3 separate regions of the Homo sapiens genome follow, and regions 2 and 3 are each linked to region 1. The links come from fine-mapping of genetic effects on gene expression. A gene starts in region 1. Each other region holds a variant in brackets. All regions are shown on one strand. Distances are between the middles of the regions.

Evidence for each region. PIP is the estimated chance that this variant, and not a neighbour inherited with it, causes the effect. A credible set is the group of variants that fine-mapping cannot tell apart.
Region 2: its variant is the best candidate, but not a certain one, in a credible set for the expression of SAMD12 in whole blood (TOPMed, PIP 0.55).
Region 3: its variant is the best candidate, but not a certain one, in a credible set for the expression of SAMD12 in whole blood (TOPMed, PIP 0.65).

Annotation. Positions count from the first base shown.
Region 1 is chr8:118,616,953-118,625,135 of GRCh38, reverse strand. SAMD12 (sterile alpha motif domain containing 12) reads left to right here and starts at 3,173. Exons shown (of 4, transcript NM_207506.3): 1 at 3,173-3,332. The coding sequence starts at 3,320. It overlaps SAMD12-AS1 (SAMD12 antisense RNA 1), which reads right to left and starts at 4,135. Exons shown (of 5, transcript NR_038210.1): 1 at 3,950-4,135; 2 at 3,481-3,601. RefSeq lists a silencer at 2,831-2,980 and enhancers at 3,081-3,280, 3,891-4,100, 4,131-4,180.
Region 2 is chr8:118,544,484-118,552,666 of GRCh38, reverse strand. All of the region lies in intron 2 of SAMD12 (sterile alpha motif domain containing 12), which reads left to right. Among named protein-coding and RNA genes, the nearest start is that of SAMD12-AS1, 72 kb to the left of the region's middle. The variant G/A (reference allele first, on the strand shown) is at 3,675.
Region 3 is chr8:118,464,728-118,472,910 of GRCh38, reverse strand. The region is part of intron 2 of SAMD12 (sterile alpha motif domain containing 12); the gene reads left to right. Among named protein-coding and RNA genes, the nearest start is that of SAMD12-AS1, 150 kb to the left of the region's middle. The variant A/G (reference allele first, on the strand shown) is at 4,254.

The DNA of each region.
Region 1 (8,183 bases):
AACCACAATTATGACCAAGAATCTGGAAGATATGAAGCATAAGACTCAGTTCCAGCACTCGAAGTGCTTATATACTATAAGGAACAAACAATAGCATCATAATGAACACAGAATTTGGCTTATGAGAGGTATGGGATGAGGTCTGGACTTTGCCCCTTGCTAAAATTGGGTATATCTGTTAGGAACTGTACTTGGCTGCTGATAAAAAAGACCAAAAATAAGTCATGATTGCAGTCTGTGAAAGATACTAAAGCAGAAGCTAAGCTGTGCCCAAATTACTGAGCCACAGAAACTGAAGTAATACATGGGTATTGTTGTAAACCACTAAATATTGGGATAATTTGTTAACAGCAATCGATTAATACATGTGGCTCATCATGTTGTTGTATACAATTGTAATTCCTTCATTTGCATTACTTTATAGGAGGGTTTGGAAAGCTTTTTTTCTGCAAAGGATCAGGTAGGAAATATTTGAGGCTTTGTAGGACAAGAGGCAAAATTGAGGATATTATGTAAGTATGTCTTTATAATTTCCAGGCTTTGCAAATTATACTTTTTTTGTTTTTTTTCCAACCATTTAAAAATGTAAAAATCACACCTAGCTGGTGAGTTATAAGAAATAAATGGTGAGCCATATTTGGCTCATTGGTCTTAGTTTGTTGACCCCTGCTATATGGAATTATTTGGTTATACCACAGTTCATCTCTCCAATCTGTGTTGATAAATATTTGAGTTGTTTTCCATTTGGGAACATTAAAATAATGCAGCCACAAACATTCTTGCACATGTCTTTTGGAGAACATCTGTATGCATATTTGTTTGGTGTAAACCTAGGAGTAGAACTTCTGGGTCACAGGATAAGCATATATTCAGCTGAATATTTCAGATGGTTTTCCAAAGTGGTTTTGTGAATTTGCACACCACCAGCAATATATAAATCTTTATTGCTTCACAATCTTGCCAACGGTTGGTATTTTGTGTCTTTATCTTTCAAACATTCTAGAGATAAATGTAATTTTTTTTTAGTACTTCCCAGGTGATTCTAATGTTCAGCCAGAATTGAAAACCTCTGCGCAACTATTGTTTATCCCTTATTAGGCAGAACCACATGAAATTGTTCTATTTGTAGGTTTTAAAAATGGTCAAACATTGGCTATTTCATATGGTAGAAACTAACATCTCCTTCACATTTTATTTATACTAAAAATAAAACTCGTCTAGAATGCACATCACTGGGAAAAATATTAAAGATGAGCTAAGATGAAGTTTTAAAATTAACCACAGATTTCAATGACTTTTATATTTTTATATCACCCAGATATTTAAAAGCTTGGAACCAGACCAATGGTTTTCACCCTCAATGAAGACTGGAATCACCTGTGGGTTTTTAAAACCTGAGTGCCTCTACCCAAACCCCCATAAGCTCTGATTCTGTGAGACTAAGATAAAAGCTTAGGAATATATATTTGTAGAAGGCTGATGCACAGCCAAGGTTGAGAACCATTGATACTACCTGTCCTATGGCTTTCTTTCACATTCATTCAATCTCAGAAAATACTTAACACTTTGGTGATTTTATATACATAAAGTAGTGAAGCACCTGGATTTCAGTTCTTTCCAGAGTTTAGAATGCTTGGCTGTGTATTAGGTCGGAAAATTCTTTTTCCCATGGAAATTATGTCTCACTGAATGGGTCTCTCTCTACTGTACCTAAAAGAGAGGCTTAGGTTTGACTTGTACACAGCTCCATGGACTCAGAATTAAAGTATCAACAAGAGCATTTAATGGTTACACGCAGGTATTTTTTAAAGTACCTATACACATATTATTATTATATATTACCCAGTAGGGGAACTAAGCATGTAATTAGTGACCAGAACAACAGGTGTGCATGTATACACTGAGAAACGAAATTGTTTTGAAAAACATTTTTTTTTTTTTGCTGATGACCAAGACACACAAAAATGTCTAAGTAGTCATCATGGGAAGAATCCGATTTTTGTACTTCCTCATTTTACAGAGATTAACATTATATATGAGTGACTGGGTGGATGTGGTACCAAATACATTTGTAAACTGAAGGCCTTTAAAAGTCAATCCAGTCTTGAGCCAGATTTATTCCCGAGGCTATTCCCTTACCCCTTCCAGCCACAACTGTATCCGTATTTTCACACGCAGGAAAAAATGTTTAGAAACTTAATTTTTACGAGCTGTCGAATTGTATTGCTATCCACGTGATTCCCATTATCATGTCTGCTTATAGCATCCCCAGCACCTACAGCTAGGACATAGGTTCAGAAGTTGAAGGAACCTGATTCTCAGGCACTGTTAATTATTAGGCCCTATCACAGGCTGTCAACAGGCTCCAAGTCTAGGCAAATTGAAAGCCTCCTATCCTGGAAGCCAGACAGGCTTTCATCTGACCTCCTCCGGTGCAATCCTGGCTCCCAGACTTTGTTCCTAACAACCCCTTGGGGACGTTGCCTATTGGGGTTTAAGCCACTCCTCCTCCCCTACACCCCCATGCCAAGTATTTAGCCACCTGAACCACCCTGTAGGATAAGACAACTGTATCAACCGTCGGAATTCCCCCACAAAACCCATACATCTCAGGGTGCGAAGGAACAAGTTTCAACCTCACCCTGGGCAGCGTTCTCTGGCCCAGGTGGAGAACCACACAGGAGGACAGTGGTCCTGCTCTCCCTACTAAATGGTGGTTCAGGAGGCCAGGGGGCGGGGCGGTACCGGCGGCAGAGGCCCACGGACGAGCTCGCAGGAGCTCATCACACAGCTGACCGTCACCTGCCCACCTCACCACACCTGCTAGGTGCCAAACCCCTTGTAATGGACAGGGAAGGGCTCAATCACGGGTCCCTACTCTTAGCAGCGAACCTATCTCAGCGCACGGCCTCCTGGGAGATGTAGTCCAGACCGCTTCCCGGGAACCCCCCCCCCCTCCCCCCCCGCCCCGCCACAACCAGGCATCCCTGGTCCCCTCACAACTTCCCCAGGAGAGATTGCTCGGCCTGGCCAGCTGAAGCTGGAGTTGCTCTCCAAGTGTCGGGGCCAGGCGGCACTCCGCGGAGGAGTCGGGGTGCTCTCCCCAGTCCGAGCGAAGGGAGGGAACTACACTTCCCAGGACGCCCTGCGCGCGCCGAGCCGGGAGCCGGCTGCCTCGCTTTGCGTGACCGCGGCAGGTTGGTCCTGGAGCAGATAAGCGCAGAATATTTAGGCGAAAGCGAGAGGAAGGGGGGAGCGCGGGGCAGGAGGAGTACCTCGGCCAAGAAAATTATGCATGCGTTAGGGAAGCTCTGAGAGAATGGCTGTGGAAGGTAAGGGACGCTTGGGGCATTTTTAAGCTCCCTCTTAACCCGCGCACCCCAAGGCACACATCCCCGATGAAGCTTGGCGATCGTGGGGAGGCGAGGAAAGGGGGTGGCGGAGAGCGGGCCCCTTCCTCCTCCACCTCTTGGCACTCACCTGCGCCGCCAAGGCCAGTAGGCGCTTTAATTCAGTTGCTTTGGAGAGACGTGAAGGGTAGGTGCGTAGGACTTTGAGGTAGGAGGTGTGGAGACGAGTGTCCCTGATGCGAAACGATATCCTGGAAATGGGGGGAAAGCCGGAGGATCCGGCATGAGGTTTTGGCCCCGAGATGCCCTTTTTCCCTGCCCCCTCCCTCCGGAGCAGGCTGGGTGGCCCCGGGGCTGGGGATGCTTGGTTGGCCCCCCTCACGTGGGAGAGGTCCCCAGCCCAGGTGCGTCATCCGGAAGCTTGGACTGGGATTGGGTCGAGGGCCCTTCGTCCTATGCACCCAGCAGCGGCGGCCGCAGATGTACCCAGAGGGTAGAGGTGTCCCTACACCTGTCTCTGCTTATACAGCCAGCGCCCCGGGCTTAGCAAAGTTTACAGACATGAAATGTAATCAGCCAGGGAAAAGAAGTGCAACAACCTCTTCGATTTGGGTGAATCCTTTTCTTTGAAGATCACTTTCTTCTTACAGTCTTGAGCTTCGGCTTTGCAGTTTTGACCGTAAAGTCCTGCCTCCCTTGAACTTCCTGGTTGAAAGCAGGGTCAGGCTGTTCGTGAGGGATCCTGAGTTTTTCATTTCAGGTTATCTTACCTTGGAACACAAACTTCCTTGTTTAGGTAGTTTCTGAAGAAGAAAAAAAAACTGTGGACCGGAAGGGTTTGTGATGTCACATTAGAGGTCAAGCTGTGCCTGAATGATGAAATGATTGTGGGACGAAATGGGAGCCTACATTCACCTGCAGAATTTTGGTTTCTGAGTGCAGTCAGGTCAGAGGGCGTACTGAAGTAGGAAGAGGAGGGCTTGCCTGCCAGCTGCTTCAGGCGCCTTGCCAAGGGGAAATCAGCCTATTCCTTGTAGGCTAGAGACGAGAAGGCCACGAGGCTGGCTTGCTGCTCCCTCTCCTCCCTGCCCCAGGAGAAAGAAATTGAACTAATCTGACTCTTGCTCCCCTTATAACGACTGTCTTAACAACCTGAAGTAGCAACAACCCAGCTCCTATACTCAGCACCCATAAACTCGGGAAACTCTTGCCTTTGGGCTATCTCAGGTTCAGAGATCCACAGCCAGCCACTTCCAGCTTTCCTAACTTTATTAACAAAAATGAAATCCTCTCTCTCTCTTACAATCAAGATTTTTCTAGGTTTTCTTTTCTGTGCAAATGTACCAGTAGGGTGAGAATCTTTTTTTTTTTTTTTTTTTTTTTTTTGCATCGTTATGCTTGATAGTCAAGACTTCAGATGCCAAAGAACAAAACAAAAGCCGAGATAAAGTTCATCTTGAGCTTGAGACCAAGGATATGTTGACCTACTCCTTAAGTGTCCGTTCTATGTCACCCATCAGGTGACACTGATTATGATCTCTCGTCTTCACCACTCCTGTGTCCCCAAGACAGGGACACTCCTCTTTGTTGCTAGTCCACACTGTTCTCGAAAACAATTTCTTGTTCCCTGTAAGAAGTATAAATTTGTCTTATTTCTTGCGTGATGGGTGATTACACCAGTGAAGCCAGACTTTACAAAAACAAGAACTTAGGAAGGAAGTACATGTGGACTATGGAGAGTTTATTTTCTAGTGACTTGGTTAAAGTACCTGTCTAGTAAACAGGAGATCCTGAGTTTGAATCACAATGAGGTCTCAAAGAATGAAGGAAGTATTTTAAACTTTAACTTCAAATATGATTCCTATCTTTGGTCTTTGCAAAGATATCAGCCTGGACCAGTCCCTTCCTGGTTACTCCTACTTGGTCTTTCAAGCCTTTGGGAAAATGTCACTTCCTCTGGGAAACTGTCCCAGCCCTCCTTTTTCTTCTGCCTTCTCAGCACTCTTTCCAGTCTATGGGAAGTGCCTCCTGCTCACATTTATCTTAATACTTATCATACTTAATCTGCCTCTTACTAGACTCTAACCCCCTTGGGGGTTAGACTTGGACTTTATATTCCTAGCTCATAGCACAGTACTTTGCCCATAATAGGTACTCAATGCTCATGAATTGCATGGCAAATATATTCATGGAGGTTTTGTAACTGGTTCTATAAGGGTACATGGGGCTTTCTTGGAAGCCTAAATGTGATACAATAAGGGATTTCTGACAGATTTGAGGATGGGAGATTTTTTTTTTTTTTTTTTTGAGACAGAGTCTTGCTCTGTCGCCCAGGCTAGAGTACAGTGGCGCGGTCTCAGCTCACTGCAAGCTCCGCCTCCCAGGTTCACGCCATTCTCCTGCCTCAGCCTCCCAAGTAGCTGGGACTATAGGCACCCGCCACCATGCCTGGCTAATTTTTTTGGTATTTTTAGTAGAGACGGAGTTTCACCATGTTAGCCAGGATGGTCTCGATCTCCTGACCTCGTGATCTGCCCACCTCGAAGTGCCCTTCTCTTCAGTCTTTTGTCTTGATGCCCAAAAAATCTTTTAGAACAGTTTACCTCTACTGCTGGGTGACATTGTCCCTGGACACATTTGGGATATGTAGGAACTGCTGCTGGGGGCTGCTGTTGGTATTTTGTGCCCATGGCCACAGATAATAAATGTCCTGCAGCGCATGGCCATCCCGTATAACGAGGCCAAGCCATGGCCAAGTAATGATCAGTTTACCCAACTTATTGAGAAATGCTGCTTCAGAGAATAAGGAGTTTTGCCAGAGGAACTGGAATAGAAAATACAGTTCGAATTGCTTAACATTCTAAGCTTTAGTCTCCACATCTGGAAAAAATGGGCTCACTACTGCTTTCCTCCTGGGAACATTGTGAGGATTTTTTTTTTTTTTTTTGAGACGGAGTCTTGCTCTGTCGCCCAGGCTGGAATGCAGTGGCGCGATCTCGGCTCACTGCAAGCTCCGCCTCCCGGGTTCACGCCATTTTCCTGCCTCAGCCTCCCGAGTAGCTGGGCTACAGGTGCCTGCTACCACGCCCGGCTGATTTTTTTGTACTTTTAGTAGAGACAGAGTTTCACCATGTTAGCCAGGATGGTCTCCATCTCCTAACCTCGTGATCCGCCCGCCTCGGCCTCCCAAAGTGCTGGGATTACAGGAGTGAGCCACCGTGCCCTGCTCATTGTGAGGATTAAATAAAGGAGAGGGCTTCTAGAAGGGTGTCTGGAACCTGCATCCTAAGTAAATATCACTTGTACTCTCATCCCTTCTCTTAGGAAAAGCTATACTATTTGGCATGTGTTTTATATCCTGAATTTTCACTTATTCATGCCAGCCAGTTTTTCTAATTAGTAACAAATTAGAAGGTTTTTTACTATGTGTAACTTTTTCTTAAGTAAACTTGAATTTGTAAAAGTGTTACTAGCAAGTAGTTCACTCATTCACTTTGCTGAACCTGCAGCCGTGTGTTTAAGATGAAAAAGAGGTGCCCTTTGTTTATTGTTTTGTAACTACCCTGTGTTATGTTTTCTTCTTAGTTTATTTGCAACATCCTATTTATGTCTCCTAGTCTGCTTGTGACCCATGCTTTGCATTTATGGGCAGCTTACAGGTATGCTTTCCCGCCACAGAACAGGGTACGACCTTATGGTCTGCATTTGGATTAGGATTATACTGGCATACATTGCCTTTTTTTAAAAAAAAAAAAAACAAAAACAATGTCTTGTGAAATAATTTAGCAGGACTGGGGACTAGGACCTCTTGGAAGGAGGTAGCAGGGACCCCAAACTAATCCATTCTCTATGGACAGACTGTGTATAGACGGTTAAACCTATTGATGTTTTCTAACAGAAATGGGTTGCAATATTATTCAGGGAGAAGAAAAATGTGGATTCATTGGGGACAGTGTCGTATTCATCTTTGTATTCATCTCTGTATTCCAGGGATGGCGCCTGGCACTTAGGAGGCCCACAGTCATTGTTTCATGAATGACATATAAATGCACGAGTCTCCAGAGCTAGAGAAGGATTTTTTTTTTACCCCTCATCCCCAATTCCTTTTCTTGCTTTGTCCTCAGATATTTATGAAAAAAATAGGGAGGATGGACATTGTACATGGTAATTTCTATTCCAGGTCTAACAGAATAGCACCTCTCATGTGGCAGAAAAATGATTTCCAATATTCAGCACTCACCTCTCTCCCCAAGAAAAACATGTCAAATGCAAGACTGTGTGCTCTTAATGACATCTATATTAAGGGATCTGAATTTTCCATCATAAATGAACATGGTAGCTTACCAAATATCTTCTGATAAGTCATTCAGTGCTCAGGTTCTATGTTTTTTCTCCTGTAGAAGAGTGAAGAAACTACACATCACCAAAATATTGTAAGGCTAAGTAATAATAACGGTGACTGGGAAAATGGGAAATGAGATAGCGTCAAACGTTTGTGACAAATAGAAGCAGTCACGGTAAACACTGGGCTTTGCAGCCCCATAAATGATGACTTTGTACCCAACTTGAACTCAGAACTGCATCACAGAGAGTAAAAGGAGTCACATGGGAGATAAAAACATCATTTTTATCACAAGCTTATAGTGGGTTATTTTTTTCTGACTTTGGGTTGGAGGGTAAGTGGGCTTGCTAATATTGTATGCAGCAGTGAACTTACCCGTCATAGGGATGCCTCCCTCTATGCTAGTGGTCCTTAACCTTTTTGGCACCAGGGATCAGATTCATGGAAGACAGTTTTTCCATGGGGGATGGTTTTGGGATGAAACTGTTCCA
Region 2 (8,183 bases), 72 kb after region 1:
CAACACTACATTGAATAGGAGTGGTGAGAGAGGGCATCCCTGTCTTGTGCCAGTTTTCAAAGGGAATGCTTCCAGTTTTTGCCCATTCAATATGATACTGGCTGTGGGTTTGTCATAGATAGCTCTTATTATTTTGAAATACGTCGTCCCATCAATACCTAATTTATTGAGAGTTTTTAGCATGAAGGGTTGTTGAATTTTGTCAAAGGCCTTTTCTGCATCTATTGAGATAACCATGTGGTTTTTGTCTTTGGTTCTGTTTATATGCTGGATTACATTTATTGATTTGCATATATTGAACCAGCCTTGCATCCCAGGGATGAAGCCCACTTGATCATGGTGGATAAGCTTTTTGATGTGCTGCTGGATTCGGTTTGCCGGTATTTTATTGAGGATTTTTGCATCAATGTTCATCAAGGATATTGGTCTAAAATTCTCTTTTTTTGTTGTGTCTCTGCCCGGCTTTGGTATCAGGATGATGCTGGCCTCATAAAATGAGTTAGGGAGGATTCCCTCTTTTTCTATTGATTGGAATAGTTTCAGAGGGAATGGTACCAGTTCCTCCTCGTACCTCTGGTAGAATTCGGCTGTGAATCCATCTGGTCCTGGACTCTTTTTGGTTGGTAAGCTATTGATTATTGCCACAATTTCAGCTCCTGTTATTGGTCTATTCAGAGATTCAACTTCTTCCTGGTTTAGTCTTGGGAGAGTGTATGTGTCGAGGAATTTATCCATTTCTTCTAGATTTTCTAGTTTATTTGCGTAGACGTATTTGTAGTATTCTCTGATGGTAGTTTGTATTTCTGTGGGATCGGTGGTGATATCCCCTTTATCATTTTTTATTGCATCTGTTTGATTCTTCTCTCTTTTTTTCTTTATTAGTCTTGCTAGCGGTCTATCAATTTTGTTGATCCTTTCAAAAAACCAGCTCCTGGATTCATTAATTTTTTGAAGGGTTTTTTGTGTCTCTATTTCCTTCAGTTCTGCTCTGATTTTAGTTATTTCTTGCCTTCTGCTAGCTTTTGAATGTGTTTGCTCTTGCTTTTCTAGTTCTTTTAGTTGTGATGTTAGGGTGTCAATTTTGGATCTTTCTTGCTTTCTCTTGTTGGCATTTACTGCTATAAATTTCCCTCTACACACTGCTTTGAATGTGTCCCAGAGATTCTGGTATGTTGTGTCTTTGTTCTCGTTGGTTTCAAAGAACATCTTTATTTCTGCCTTCATTTCGTTATGTACCCAGTAGTCATTCAGGAGCAGGTTGTTCAGTTTCCATGTAGTTGAGCGGTTTTGAGTGAGATTCTTAATCCTGAGTTCTAGTTTGATTGCACTATGGTCTGAGAGACAGTTTGTTATAATTTCTGTTCTTTTACATTTGCTGAGGAGAGCTTTACTTCCAACTATGTGTTCAGTTTTGGAATAGGTGTGGTGTGGTGCTGAAAAAAATGTATATTCTCTTGATTTGGGGTGGAGAGTTCTGTAGATGTCTATTAGGTCTGCTTGGTGCAGAGCTGATTTCCATTCCTGGGTATCCTTGTTGACTTTCTGTCCCGTTGATCTGTCTAATGTTGACAGTGGGGTGTTAAAGTCTCCCATTATTAATGTGTGGTCTAAGTCTCCTTGTAGGTCACTCAGGACTTGCTTTATGAATCTGGGTGCTCCTGTATTGGGTGCATATATATTTAGGATAGTTAGCTCTTCTTGTTGAATTGATCCCTTTACCATTATGTAATGGCCTTCTTTGTCTCTTTTGATCTTTGTTGGTTTAAAGTCTGTTTTATCAGAGACTAGGATTGCAAACCCTGCCTTTTTTTGTTTTCCATTTGCTTGGTAGATCTTCCTCCATCCTTTTATTTTAAGCCTATGTGTGTCTCTGCATGTGAGATGGGTTTCCTGAATACAACACACTGATGGGTCTTGACTCTTTATCCAATTTGCCAGTCTGTGTCTTTTAATTGGAGCATTTAGTCCATTTACATTTAAAGTTAATATTGTTATGTGTGAATTTGAACCTGTCATTATGATGTTAGCTGGTTATTTTGCTCGTTAGTTGATGTAGTTTCTTCCTAGTCTTGATGGTCTTTACATTTTGGCATGATTTTGCAGCGGCTGGTACCGGTTGTTCCTTTCCATGTTTAGTGCTTCCTTCAGGAGCTCTTTTAGGGCAGGCCTGCTGGTGACAAAATCTCTCAGCATTTGCTTGTCTGTAAAGTATTTTATTTCTCCTTCACTTATGAAGCTTAATTTGGCTGGATATGAAATTCTGGGTTGCAAATTCTTTTCTTTAAGAATGTTGAATATTGGCCCCCACTCTCTTTTGGCTTGTAGGGTTTCTGCAGAGAGATCCACTGTTAGTCTGATGGGCTTCCCTTTGTGGGTAACCCGACCTTGCTCTCTGGCTGCCCTTAACATTTTTTCCTTCATTTCAACTTTGGTGAATCTGACAATTATGTGTCTTGGAGTTGCTCTTCTCAAGGAGTATCTTTGTGGCGTTCTCTGTGTTTCCTGAATCTGAATGTTGGCCTGCCTTGCTGGGTTGGGGAAGCTCTCCTGGATAATATCCTGCAGAGTGTTTTCCAGCTTGGTTCCATTCTCCCTGTCACTTTCAGGTACACCAATCAGTCGTAGATTTGGTCTTTTCACATAGTCCCATATTTCTTGGAGGTTTTGTTCATTTCTTTTTATTCTTTTTTCCCTAAACTTCCCTTCTCGCTTCATTTCATTCATTTCATCTTCCATTGCTGATACCCTTTTTTCCAGTTGATCGCATCGGCTCCTGAGGCTTCTGCATTCTTCATGTAGTTCTGGAGCCTTGGCTTTCAGCTCCATCAGTTCCTTTAAGCACTTCTCTGTATTGGTTATTCTAGTTATACATTCGTCTAAATTTTTTTCAAAGTTTTTAACTTCTTTACCTTTGGTTTGAATTTCTTCCTGTAGCTCGTAGTTTGATCGTCTGAATCCTTCTTCTCTCAACTTGTCAAAGTCATTCTCCGTCCAGCTTTGTTCCATTGCTGGTGAGGAACTGCGTTCCTTTGGAGGAGGAGAGGTGCTCTGCTTTTTAGAGTTTCCAGTTTTTCTGCTCTGTTTTTTCCCCATCTTTGTGGTTTTATCTACTTTTGGCCTCTGATGATGGAGATATACAGATGGGTTTTTGGTGTGGATGTCCTTTCTGTTTGTTAGTTTTCCTTCTAACAGACAGGACCCTCAGCTGCAGGTCTGTTGGAGTTTGCTAGAGGTCCACTCCAGACCCTGTTTGCCTGGTTATCAGCAGCGGTGTCTGCAGAACAGTGGTTTTTCGTGAACCACGAATGCTGCTGTCTGATATTTCCTCTGGAAGTTTTGTCTCAGAGGAGTACCTGGCTGTGTGAGGTGTCAGTTTGCCCCTACTTGGGGGGTGCCTCCCAGTTAGGCTGCTCGGGGGTCAGGGGTCAGGGACCCACTTGAGGTGGCAGTCTGCCCGTTCTCAGATCTCCAGCTGTGTGCTGGGAGAACCACTGCTCTCTTCAAAGCTGTCAGACAGGGACATTTCAGTCTGCAGAGGTTACTGTTGTCTTTTTGTTTGTCTGTGCCCTGCCCCCAGAGGTGGAGCCTACAGAGGCAGGCAGGCCTCCTTGAGCTGTGGTGGGCTCCACCCAGTTCCAGCTTCCTGGCTGCTTCGTTTACCTAAGCAAGCCTGC[G/A]CAATGGCGGGCGCCCCTCCCCCAGCCTGGCTGCCGCCTTGCACTTTGATCTCAGACTGCTGTGCTAGCAATCAGGGAGACTCCGTGGGCGTAGGACCCTCCAAGCCAGGTGCGGGATATAATCTCGTGGTGCACCATTTTTTAAGTCTGTCGGAAAAGCACAGTATGTGGGTGGGAGTGACCCGATTTTCCAGGTGCCGTCTGTCACCCCTTTCTTTGACTAGGAAAGGGAACTCCCTGACCCCTTGCACTTCCCGAGTGAGGCAATGCCTCGCCCTGCTTCGGCTCGCGCACGGTGCGCTGCACCCACTGACCTGCGCCCACTCTCTGGCACTCCCTAGTGAGATGAACCCGGTACCTCAGATGAAAATGCAGAAATCACCCGTCTTCTGCGTCGCTCACGCTGGGAGCTGTAGACTGGAGCTGTTCCTATTCGGCCATCTTGGCTCCTCCCCTCCAGTTGTAGATGTTAACAAATACCTTTAGAGTAACATCTAGACACATTTGACCAAACAACTAGACACCATAACTTAACCAAGTTAACACATTAAGTTACCCATCACATGGGGTGTGTGTGTGTGTGTGTGTGTGTGTGTGTGTGTGTGTGTATGTGTGTTTTTAGTGTAAAGGGTATTATGAACACATTGTAAGTTATTAGGAAATTTGGAAAGGGAAGGAATCATATATCTATTACCCCACTGGAGCCTGTTTTGTTTTCTTCCAGTGTTTTTATAAAAGGGTATCTTTTAAAATATCGTGAACATATTTGCTATATGTTACAGCTTTTGTCTGTTGCTCATATTTGTCCCAGTTGTCAGAGCAAAAGCACTAACATGGGAACTTGAGGCCCTGGATGCTTGTCCATTCTCTGTGTAATTTCATTCTTTGTCTATTCTCTCACTAATTTCTTCATGAGTTGAGAAAGAAATAAGGTCCTCCTGGGCTGTGGTTTCCTTCTCTGTTTATGAAGAGTTGGGTTTGGTAACCTCGAGTGACCTTTTCAGCTTGAATATTTTATTAATCCAGGATGTCCTCAAGTGTGTTACATGTACCCCTCTATCACTATATGCCAGAAGGTTGGAGGTCGTGTGAGGATGAACAGTGTTTGATTTAGTAATTTAACATTTTGTATATTTGAAAAAAATAGAATTAACACATCAAATCTGGTTTTCTGTGGTTATTTCTTAGGACAAGGTGAAAACTAACAAAGGGAATTACTTTAAAGAAAAATACTAGAAAAATACATATTTTATATGGTATAGAAAAAAGTTAGAAATGACCAAAGTTTGGGATGTATACTATAATAATCTGTGAGTGTGATTCAGTATGCTCTCACCCTACCTTTCAAGAAACCCATAAAGACTGGAGTTCTCTTAGCAGACAGCAGTGTGGATAGATCATTGCTCAGTTAATACTTTGCCCAACCTGTATTGTACACTTACTTGTGCTAAGTACTGTGTAAGGTGCAAGAATCTTTGGGTAAATGAGATGTGGATTTGGCCCTTGGTCAGTTAGTCTAGTGGGGCAAGGGAAGTGTAAATGATTAATTACAACCCAATACTTTATCTACAGTAAGAGAAGTATGTTCTAGGGACCAGGCTGGGGATAACAGAGGGGAGAAACTAGCCTTACTCAAAGGACACCAAAAAAAAAGCCTCACTGAAGTCATTCTTGATTTGGCCAACAAATTGGCGATGGACATTCAGGTGCAGGGAACAGGAAAGAGGTTGTCCAGAGAATTTCAGCAGACTCATAGGTGTTTGCTGCTACATTTTTTTTAAAAAAGACGTGCCTGTGGAACATGCTGTTGTAAAACTTTTTCCCTGGTCACGAGTGGCAAGCTCGCACTAATCTTTCAGTATTCACAGGTTAGATTCTGTAATATTTGCCATCTCTGCGTTTATCTGTTACCTAACTTGGAGCTTCTATTTCTTTACTCCTGAATGAGTCTCAAGCAAAAGTCTGAATATTCTGTAAACATTCTTTTTCAGTATGGCTTTTGTCCTTCTTTTAAGAAAGAAAAGAAAAATGGTTTTCAGTGATCTTGGATGAGGGAAATCTTTGTATCCTTAATTAAATGCCTGAATTTGGTTTTGTGTTTGCTAGGAGCCTACTGTAAAGCAAACTGATGTGGCCTTCTGTTCTCTTCCAGGCACCAAGTGTTTGCTGGGCTCAGTTCCCAATGAGTCTGTGTAATGCATTCCTTCTGTCCCACCCCATATTGCAGATCTGTGGAGGCTGACATCATCACCTTGAATAATAAAGCTATTCCCAAATGTAACAAGTTGAAGTGCCTAAATGGAGGAATGCGGGGTTAGAGAGGTGCAGCGGGGCTTTCCAGTGAGTTCAACATTGTAATTGTGGTTTGCCTGCTATTAAAAAAATCTTCTAGAAATGTCTCATTGTAATTAACAGAGATTAAACATTTAAATTTAAAGTATTTTATAGGGCTAATTTATTGCTCCATTGCCATCTGCCCTGAAAGCAGATCTGTTGATCTGTTCCCTTGACAGCCAGTGAGATTCAAGTTTGCCTCCCCTCCCGGTGGGCCCCTTCTCGACCTTGGAAGCTGATAAGAATCCTATGGACAAAGCTCGGGTGGGCTGCCAGGAAAAAATGTTGGATTCAGTGTTATCTCTGGTTGAGAGCAGAATAATGCTCTTCTTTTCACATCAGGGCTGGGATTTACAGAAACCCCTCCCAATTCCACCTCTTCATTTAATGCTAAGTGCTACTCAACATTGTCCAGGTCTTGGCTTAAATGTTAATTGGTCCAGGAGCCTTGCCTGACCACCTAAGGCTTGGTTTAGTCCCCTTATTCTATTCTCTGATAGTACCCTGTGCTTTTCTTCTCATCACACCTGGGTTTCTCGCTGCACTGCAAGCTGTGTGAAGGCAGGAATGATGGCATTTGTTTGGAGCTTGCTTTGTGCCACGAACTATTCTAAATGTTTTACATGTGCTCCATGGAGAGGTATGTGACAGAGGTTAAGGGTCCCGGTTTTGGAGCTCGACCACTCACATAAGCTCTGTGGAGTAACTGAAGGCAGTACCTGGGCTCTGGCTTTGCAGTTGGGAACAATCAGCTCGGTCTCTCACTAGCTATGTAACTCAGGGAATTTCATCCCACCTGCCAGGCATGTAACCACAGATTAACCAAGACTCTAGTGGAAGCTTGACACATGTTAACTATATTTCATCTGTTCAAAGATGCATAATTTTTAAACCTTTTAACATTTCCGAAATTGGGAGGCATCTTACAGTTGCTTGCATATTATGATTTCATTGCCAGTATGTTTTTTCTTTTCTATTCCTAAGGAAAATGTAAAATAATGATGTCTTGGGTTCATCAAGATTCATTGAAGTATGTTATCTCTTTCTCTTTCCTCCACTTTGGGCGAAGACTATGGTGTTTTGAAGAAGTAGATACCCTAATTCAGGAGTCCTAATGATGACCTATGCATAAATACCTGTGTGGTGTTTAGAATTGCCTGGGATTCTTGTTTTTTGTTTTGTTTTGTTTTTGAGATGGACTCTCACTCTTGTCACCCAGGCTGGAGTGTAATGGCACGATCTTGGTTCACTGCAACCTCTGCCTCCCAGGCTCAAGCGATTCTCCTGCCTCAGCCTCCCCAGTAGCTGGGATTACAGGTGCCTGCCACTACACCTGGCTAATTTTTGTATTTTTAGTGGAGATGAGATTTCACCGTGTTAGCCAGGCTGGTCTCCACTTTCTGACCTCAGGTAATCCACCTACTTCGGCCTCCCAGAGTGTTGGGATTACAGGTGTGAGCCACTGTGCCTGGCCTGGGGTTCTTGTTTTAAAATATATGTGTGCATGTTTATACATGCATGTGTATACATGCACACACACATATTTATATAGTTTTGGACCTCATCCAAGGTCTACCGACTTGTAGTTATTTGACTGAGGCCTGGGCACTGGCATTTTATCAGTTGCCCTAGAGGGTTCTGTTGCAGCTAGTGTGAAACAATTTGAAAACCAGTGATCTCATTCGTCTGCTGTTGGCTTTAACTTCCAGTCACTACTTTGCCTTTTTATATTTAATTTCTTCTTCTCTTCGTTATATGTCGAAGCACCTAGCACAATGCCTGGCACATAGAATGTTCTCAAGAAAACTAACATGTTTCCTCATCCTTTCACCTTAATGTTTCTGAAATTGTAGGGAGGCAGAGTTGGAGGATGTGCTGAAGAAATAGTGGTGTGGTGAGATGAGAGCTACTGACTGAACTTTCTCCAAGTTGTTAGCAGGGAATGAAGGTTGAGAAGGAAGCAGGAAGCCAGACACCTCTGCTTGCATGGTTTTTGGCTGTCTCTGAATCTTGGCGGTTTTTCCCTTGGGTCTCTATAATGTCTATCAAGTACTTTAGTTTCAGTGTGATTTTCAAGGAATGTGACCTGGGGTGAAATCCCTGGAGCAACCGTGTACACTCTTTGACTGACTTTCAGCCCTCGCAAATCTAAACATCTTGTGCTTGGAAAATCCA
Region 3 (8,183 bases), 150 kb after region 1:
ACAATTTTAAGCCTTTTTTTTTTTCCTGTCAAAATCTACAGCAAGGCAATAGCTGTGGATAAGATTGGCATTTGTGGAATTTTTCAAATTACCTTCTATTCTGAGTCAGCAATGTATACCAGGCTTTTTTACTGTAACCAGCCACTTTCTTCTATTAGGATATTCCAGTGGAAAACCACTGAATAAGTAGAATCCCTCCTGCTCTTCTTCCTTTTTAATTTTTTTAACATTTATTATAGAAAGGGCCTCATTCTGTTGCCCAGGCTGGAGTGCAGTGGTGCGATCATCACTCACTATATCCTCAAACTCCTGGGGTAAAGGGATCCTCCCACCTCAGCCTCCCAAGTAGCTGGGAATACAGGCGCAGGCTGCCATGCCCGGCTATTTTTTTCTTTTTAGAGATGAGGTCTTGCTGTGTTGCCCAGGCTTGTTTTGGACTCAAGCAGTCCTCCTGCCTCAGCCTCCCAAAGCCAAGGGTTTAGAGGCATGAGCCACTGCACCAAGCCTCTTTATACTTATTGAAACTCAGCTGTGTGACAGGCTTTCGAGACCCATTACCACACCTGACAACAGTCTGAAAGGTGCTTGGCATTATTATGTACTTGTACTCTTTTTTTTTTTTTTTAGATGGAGTCTCGCTCTGTCACCCGGGCTGGAGTGCAGTGGCACAATCTCGGCTCACTGCAAGCTCCGCCTCCCGGGTTCACGCCATACTCCTGCCTCAGCCTCCTGAATAGCTGGGGCTACGGGCACCCACCACCACGCCCGGCTAATTTTTTGTATTTTTAGTGGAGACAGGGTTTCACCGTGTTAGCCAGGATGGTCTCGATCTCCTGACCTCGTGATTCACCCGCCTCGGCCTCCCAAAGTGCTGGGATTACAGGCGTGAGCCACCGCGCCCGGCCTATTGTGTACTTTTTACAGATGAGGAAATTGAAGCAGTAATTTTCCAATGACACTACAGCTAGTAAGTAATGAAACTGGGATTCAAACTCAGTTTTGTTTTGTTTTTTCTATATCCCACTGCCTTTAGGCAGTAGATTTTCTTTAGGTAGATCTACCACCCTACTTTGTGGACTGTATCAGGTACCGGGATCTCCATTGTCATCACCATCACCACCACGGTCACCACCACTACTGCCATTACTATTGCCATCACCACCACCAAAACAAAAACAGTAAATAAATACCTAAGACCAAGAGCAAGTTTCATGGACACTACACCCAAACATCCTAAAGATGAGTTATTTTTGCTTAACTGTAGTTTTCTTTTTTAACAACATGCTTTAATTTTGGCTTTGCAAAGGGATTTTTACCAAGTTTCTTTGGCCTATTCTCTAATTTTGGCTTTGCAAAGGGATTTTTGTCAAGTTTCTTTGGCCTATTCTCCTGCTAATGTTTTCAGTGGTGACATTGGTTATAATTTGGTGCCATCAAACATTTCGATGGCGTTATTGGCTTACCCACTACTTTAATACTGTTTTGGTACAACTAAAATTTTTGCAATGGAGTACACGATGAAATTGCTTCATGCTAACCTTCCCCCTCACCAAATAATGGTGACTGCTAAAAGTCCTTACAACTGCAGACTAGGTAATTGAATAATTTGTATATCAAATTAAGGTCCAAATGATGCTTTTAATAGCACAATTACTCATAATAAGGAAAAGGTCAGCATTCACTAGTAATTATCTATTCTCTATAATTTTTAAAACATGAAAAAAAAAATGCTGTGACCAGCATATCCAAAGGGGAAAAGGCACTGTAAAACACCATTGGTATGAGAAAATCATGCTTTATTATTAAATTAGCAATTTCATTTGAGAGACATAATGTATAATTGATCAGCTAATTTGCCTGAAGCCTTTCATTTAAATACTGTATTTCACAGATTTTTAAATGCACATATTCTTTCACATTTTCAAAATCAGGCAACATTGTGTGACATAGTTTATTTAGCATCATTCTTTTTCTGTCTTAGTTGTACATAAAATTAATCCAAGTCTTAAAATCATTACTGTCTTATGTCAGATGAAATAGAGGATTCAGATCTCTTTAATTTTTCCTGAGAAGATACCCCTAAAAGACTACAAGAACTCTTTAGAGGGAGCAAATGCTGAATGAATACAGAAGAGTGAATTCACATATTCTAATATGTTCATTCACTTCCCTAATTTATATTATGTGCCTTATCTATGTGAGACACTGTGTTAGCATTTTATGGGAGTAATAATCACAATGATAAATAATATACCCTACTGCATTTGGATAGTGCTTTATAGTTGATCAGGAGCTATTACATGCATCAGCTTACTTGTTCTCAGAGTTAACCTTGGAAGATAGACATTATTTCTATTCTCTGGCTAAAGAATAAGTGACAAGCCTTCTGCAGGTTGGGCGACTCAGCTAAAGTCATTCGGGTCAGTGTTGACAGAGCCAGAACAAGAGTCTTTCAACTGCAGGTCTGCTCTTTCCACTATAAAAACAGAGGAAAGTACAAGTGAAAAAGAAGGGGCTTCCAAAGCAGCTAAGTTTAGTCCACCTTCTACTTCACAACCTAATACCTAAGCCACCCACACCAGGTTATCTATTGCTTTCCATGTTATTTTTTTATTACCTAAGTAATACATGAACATAAACCTCCTTTTTTTTTAAAAAAAAAAAAAAGATAACATATTGAGTGACAACACACTGTGTGTATGTGAGTGTGCAAATAGCTTTATAGCATAAGTGGAGTCATATAATAGTGTTTAGAGATTTGCTTTTCTCACACTATATCTTGGTGATCTATTCATTCATTCAACAAGTATTTACTCTTCTCAGCACTGAGAAATATTCATGTGTAGTTTTCTCTTTCTGTCTTACTCTCTAAAAGATGAGGAGTATTCCATTATATACATATATATGTATGTGCGTGTGTATATATAAAATTATGGTATCCATGTCATAATTTATTAAGACACTTCTCTGTCACTGGACATGTGGCTTCTTTTGAATGTAATTTCATTGCAATTAATGTTGAAATAACTACATAAAAATTATAGTACAGGCTGGGCATGGTGGCTCACGCCTGTAGTCCCAGCACTTTGGGAGGCTGAGGCAGATGGATCACCTGAGTTCAGGAGATTGAGTCCAGTCTGGCCAACATGGCGAAGCCCTGTCTCTACTAAAAATACAAAAAATAGCCAGGCGTGGTGGCACGCGCCTATAATCCCAGCTACTCGGGAGGCTGAGGCAGGAGAATCACTTGAACTTGGGAGGCAGAGGTTGTAGTGAGCTGAGATCATGCCACTGCACTCTAGCCTGGGTGACAGAGCGAGACTCTGCCTCAAAAAAAATACATATATAATATATTATATATAATAATATAATATATATAATATATTATATATATTATATATTATATAAAAATATATATATAATATATTACATGCTTATCTGTATAAATGTGTATACTTGTGGGCTAGATCCCTAGATAGGAAGGTTAAAGATAGGTGTGCTTAAATTTTCATTGTTTTTGCCTAACTCTGCAAAGGAAACTGAACCAATCATGTGACAGGCTAGGCAAATAGACTCTCCAAGAACTCCATTTATGAAATGGATGAAATAACACTTACCTCACAGTTCTGCTGAAAATCCTGCAGCATAGAGCTATGGTAGCCACTCTGCAGCATTTTGTCCTCTTCCATGGATAAGATAGGTCCACAAAAAAAGTACACAACAAGGTAGTAAAGGCTAAGGGGCATCTGAATGGCATGGGTAGTTTTAAAAGGTGAGAGATGACAAGGGGACTTCTGGCTGCTGTGTGGAGGAAGGGCGGAAGACTGAACCTTGACCTGCTAGTGGACAGGCAGAAATGTGCTGGGCTGCCTTCCAGGCAGAAAGAATAGTGCGGACCAAGGCAGAGAAAGGAGATGAATGTGATGGGAAAGGAGTAAAATCCAGCAGAATCCTATATGATATGATGAAGCAGCAGCCTCTCACTGCAACTTAATACTTTTGGATTAAAACTTTGCCTTTGCATCTCGTTAGTCATCAGCAAAATAAGCTACCGTGCTATATCTCCTTAGCTTGGCAATTGCTTTTTGTACCTCCCTTCTCTGCACAGTGACAAGAATTAATACACCCATGGATAAACTACCAAAAGTTGTGCATATTCCTCTAGCAGGGCATAGTGTTCATAAAAAGGTCAGTGATCAAGTTGTAACAGAGGTGAAAAATCTAGTATGTTGCCACAAGGAAGCCACATTTCA[A/G]TTGAACTCATTCGAACAGCTGTGTGCCCAGCATTCTGCCAGGTGCTTGAGTCAAGGAGAGAAAAGAGTGAAAGGGACAATCAGGTTATAAGATCAACTCCCAGCTCACTGAAAACTTTCATATTAAAAATAGAACATTGCTTCATATCAACAGAGCTCTCTGAAGAACCGTGTGCCTCACTGGCTCTCTCTTTGCATTGGGTTATTTACTAGAGGCATTTCTGAGCCAATGGCAATAATAGCAGGGTAGTTGAAAGACACTGGCGTTTTTGGAGAGGATGCTGCTGCCAAGAGGAGTGGGTTTTTTGTGAACGTAAGAAAACTGGTTGGTTTACAGAGGCAGTTGGCAAAAAAACCCATCTCTCCTTGCTAGTTCATGTTACCACCTGGTGAATCTGCCAAAGATTATGATGATACACTTTTTGGCCAGCTTGCCACAGCTGTTTTTCCACCATTTATGTTGTTCATATTGTTAGGAGTGGGCCTGGGATGTGTATCTGCATATATACTTCTTGTGCTAGGGTACTCTGCTGTGTGTTACAGTTCACTGATTTCCACATTTGTTCTGTTGACAGACTATCTTGTTACGTGCCACAAAGTAAGATTTGTGGTTTGCACGAATGAGATTACTGAAGGAAAAAGAGGTGGTGTCTTGTAGCAGATTTCAATCTCCCATTGGATGGATAAAATGATCTGTGGCATGGTGCCACATTGTCCCCATCTTTATGCACTCGTGGTCCATAATGCCATGAGTCTTTTGATCTTGTCAAAGCCTTTTAGGCTCTTGAATTGACAGAGTGTCTTGGCGATTTCAATGTGTAATCTAAAGAGCCACCCTAAGTCACAAATTGATTGGCCCTGTCATCAACATACTGGGTACCATCTACTCCGCATTTTTGTCTTAGACCATAATTGACAGAGCAGGATTCAAACAGATCCTTACTAACTAGCACGTTTGACCTGTGCCAGTCTCCAAATTGATTAGGAGGTGCCAAGCCCAAGGCTTTCCTAGAGTCGATATCTAACAAGCTTGTAAAGTAAAGGACTGCTGTCCAGACATCTTGCTATTGTGTATTTTATGCTGAGTTTCCGTTGTGGCAAAGATCATGGCCACATGTTCTGCAGGGGTGCACAAAAGATGACTTTTCTAACAGAATCTGGATCAGAGGGCTTAACTTTAAAGTAGAGGTAGCACAGCTTTTGAAATATAAAACAAAAGCAATAATAAAAATAAACATTCATGTAAAATTTTCTATGTGGGAGGCATCAATCCAAGCAGTGTACGTGGATTATATCACTTAGTTCTTCAACAATCCTATGAGATAGCACAATTGTTCCCATTTTACAAAGGTAACAGAGGCATACTAAGAAGATTTGTTCTGAGTTATGTAGGTGTCAAGCTGGGATTTGAACCCAGGCAGTTTGACTTTAGCATCCCCAAACTATAATTGGTCATGAGGGTCCAAGGGGGTCCAGAAGTAGTTGTATAAACAAGAAGTTCAGGCAGGAGGCAGAATCATTTCATGGCTGGACCACTGCCTCTGAATAGATACTCAAGAAAATGCAGTCCTGTCATTTTCTGTTCCCAGCTGCCTGTTATCCTCTTTTGTGACTACTACTAGTAATCATTGATTACCAAAAATGGTTTGTGAAGCAATCCAATTAAGTGAGCCAAGAATTACATGTCAAGTGTTACCATCTTTATTTGCTTATGTCAAGTGGAGTCAGAGGCTTTCTGTGATCAGCAAAGCAAGTGAAAAGTGGTTAATTTCCTTTAAGATTTGTCAAAATTTGTGGGCAGGGAATCTAATTTTCGGTTTAATTTTCCTTCTTAACACACAACGTATTTTTTTTTCTCTCTCTCCCTATTACTGCTAGCCAGAACACATCATTTGTAGTTTCACTTTACTTGAGTGTTAGGCTAATAATATTAATATGAATCCTTCTCTCGTCTTATCTTTAAGTAATTTGTAAAGGATGGTCGGTTACAGACCTGCTTAAATAGATGTCAGCCATTTTGTAAAGATACCTGAAAAAGCAAAAGATTTTAATTAAATTGTCTTTTAAGATATTTATACTTACCCCACTTGGGTGTTTTTTGTAGTTAATACTTTTGTGTTATTTATGGTATGCCTACTATAGGCTGGACATGGAGGAAGTGAATAAGGGTGAATAAAAGCCCTAAACAGCTTTGAGTTTTCTCCTATGTAAAATGAATATACTAACTACATATAATTATGTAGTGTAATAAAATGAATATAGTAATTATATTTATTTCATAGAGTTGTGGTTAAATCATATAGTCTTCGTAAGTGTCTTAGTATAGTGCATGTGCTAAGTACTCAACAAATGTTAGCTGTGGCCACATGGCTTTAAGTTTGTCTTGGCTCCTGATCCCATACACTGGATCCAGCTGACTGGCCTGGTTCAAGGCCTCTCCTTGTTCTATAGGCTATTGGACCTGCCTGGAGACTTCCTTTTTCTCTTTTACATTGCCCATGCCTGAACTGTGAGTGTTTTTAATCCTATACTGAGATTTCATCTGTGATAACACTATGCTACGTGTTAGTTATGAGTGTAATAGAGTATTTGTTTGAGATGAGATGTGAGATGGAGAATATCTTCAATTCCTCATCTAATATGCTAGTTTCCTTTTAGTTACCACTAGGTGATCAATGAAGCCTCTCTTAAAAAGAAAATAAAGATCCATCTGAGAAACTAGGGCTATACCTAGGATGACCAACTAATCCCAGATGGATTTTGTGTTGAAAGTTTTGAGTCCCAGAAGCTCCCTAAGGTATCCCCAGGACTGCCTCACTTTTAAAACTCGAAGTCCTAGATTCCAAGAATGTCCTTGGTCCTGTGTAAGCCAGGATGGATGGTTATCATATGCATGGAATACTAAGGCAGTCAAGAATTTGCCCGTCATATCTTGTTTGTATGTAATTGTTTGCCATAATTTAAAAAAAAACTATTCCATTTAACATAAAATAACTGCCTTTAAAGTTTGGTAAAAGAGATAAAGCTGTTACATAGCTTCTCCTAAGGGCAGCCCTTGACAGGGTCATGAGAAATCTATGTCTTACCCTTTGCTGTGTGTGTGTCCGAAGTCATATATAATTAAACAGATCTAGAGACTGTGCAGGACTGTTTGAGAATAACAAGAAGACAACTGACAAATGAGAAGTCCCTTTTATTGATTTAAAATGAGAACAATAACTGGCAAGCAGACAGATGCCTTGGGTTAGCTGATCATCTTCTTTTAGCCCCTATAAAAAATGTCAACCTAGAAAATAAAATAAATGTTGCTTGTTCATCATGGTACCAGAGCAAAAAAAAAGTTGAGTAATCGTATTAGGAAGACATCAAGTTTTATGAGTTCCACTCACCATCTGAAGGTACTTCCCAGTTCAGTGGTTCTCACCCTTGGCTGTGAAGTATAATCATTGCTCCTGGGTCAGCTCCTCCCTTCCCTCTTCCCCCACCCTACCCAGAGATTCTGATTTAATTTGGTTGGGGTATATTTTAAGATTGGGGTATATTTGCTCCTTTTAAGAAACTCTTCAGATTATCCTAATTTTCAGCCAGGGTTGCAACTAAGGCTGTAGGGATCACTTACCCTGCAGGCATGGAGAACCTCCTCTGGACCAGGCACTGAAAACCATGCACATTGCCTCTGCTTCAACTCCACAAAGACCAAACCATTTAGTGAAGACAACACAGCAGAGTATAGCATCTATTAATTTATGTTTGCAGTCTCATGAGTATAACCCAGACCATTTCAATAGGACTTGGGAGGAGTTCCAAACTGTTTCTTATGGTGGGATAAATCTTTGAGTGGCTAATATCCTCCATTTATAATTGATTATTAGCCCCAATTTTAGAAATTCATTGGCAAATCTTGCCCAAATATTTTAGTCTCTATAAAAA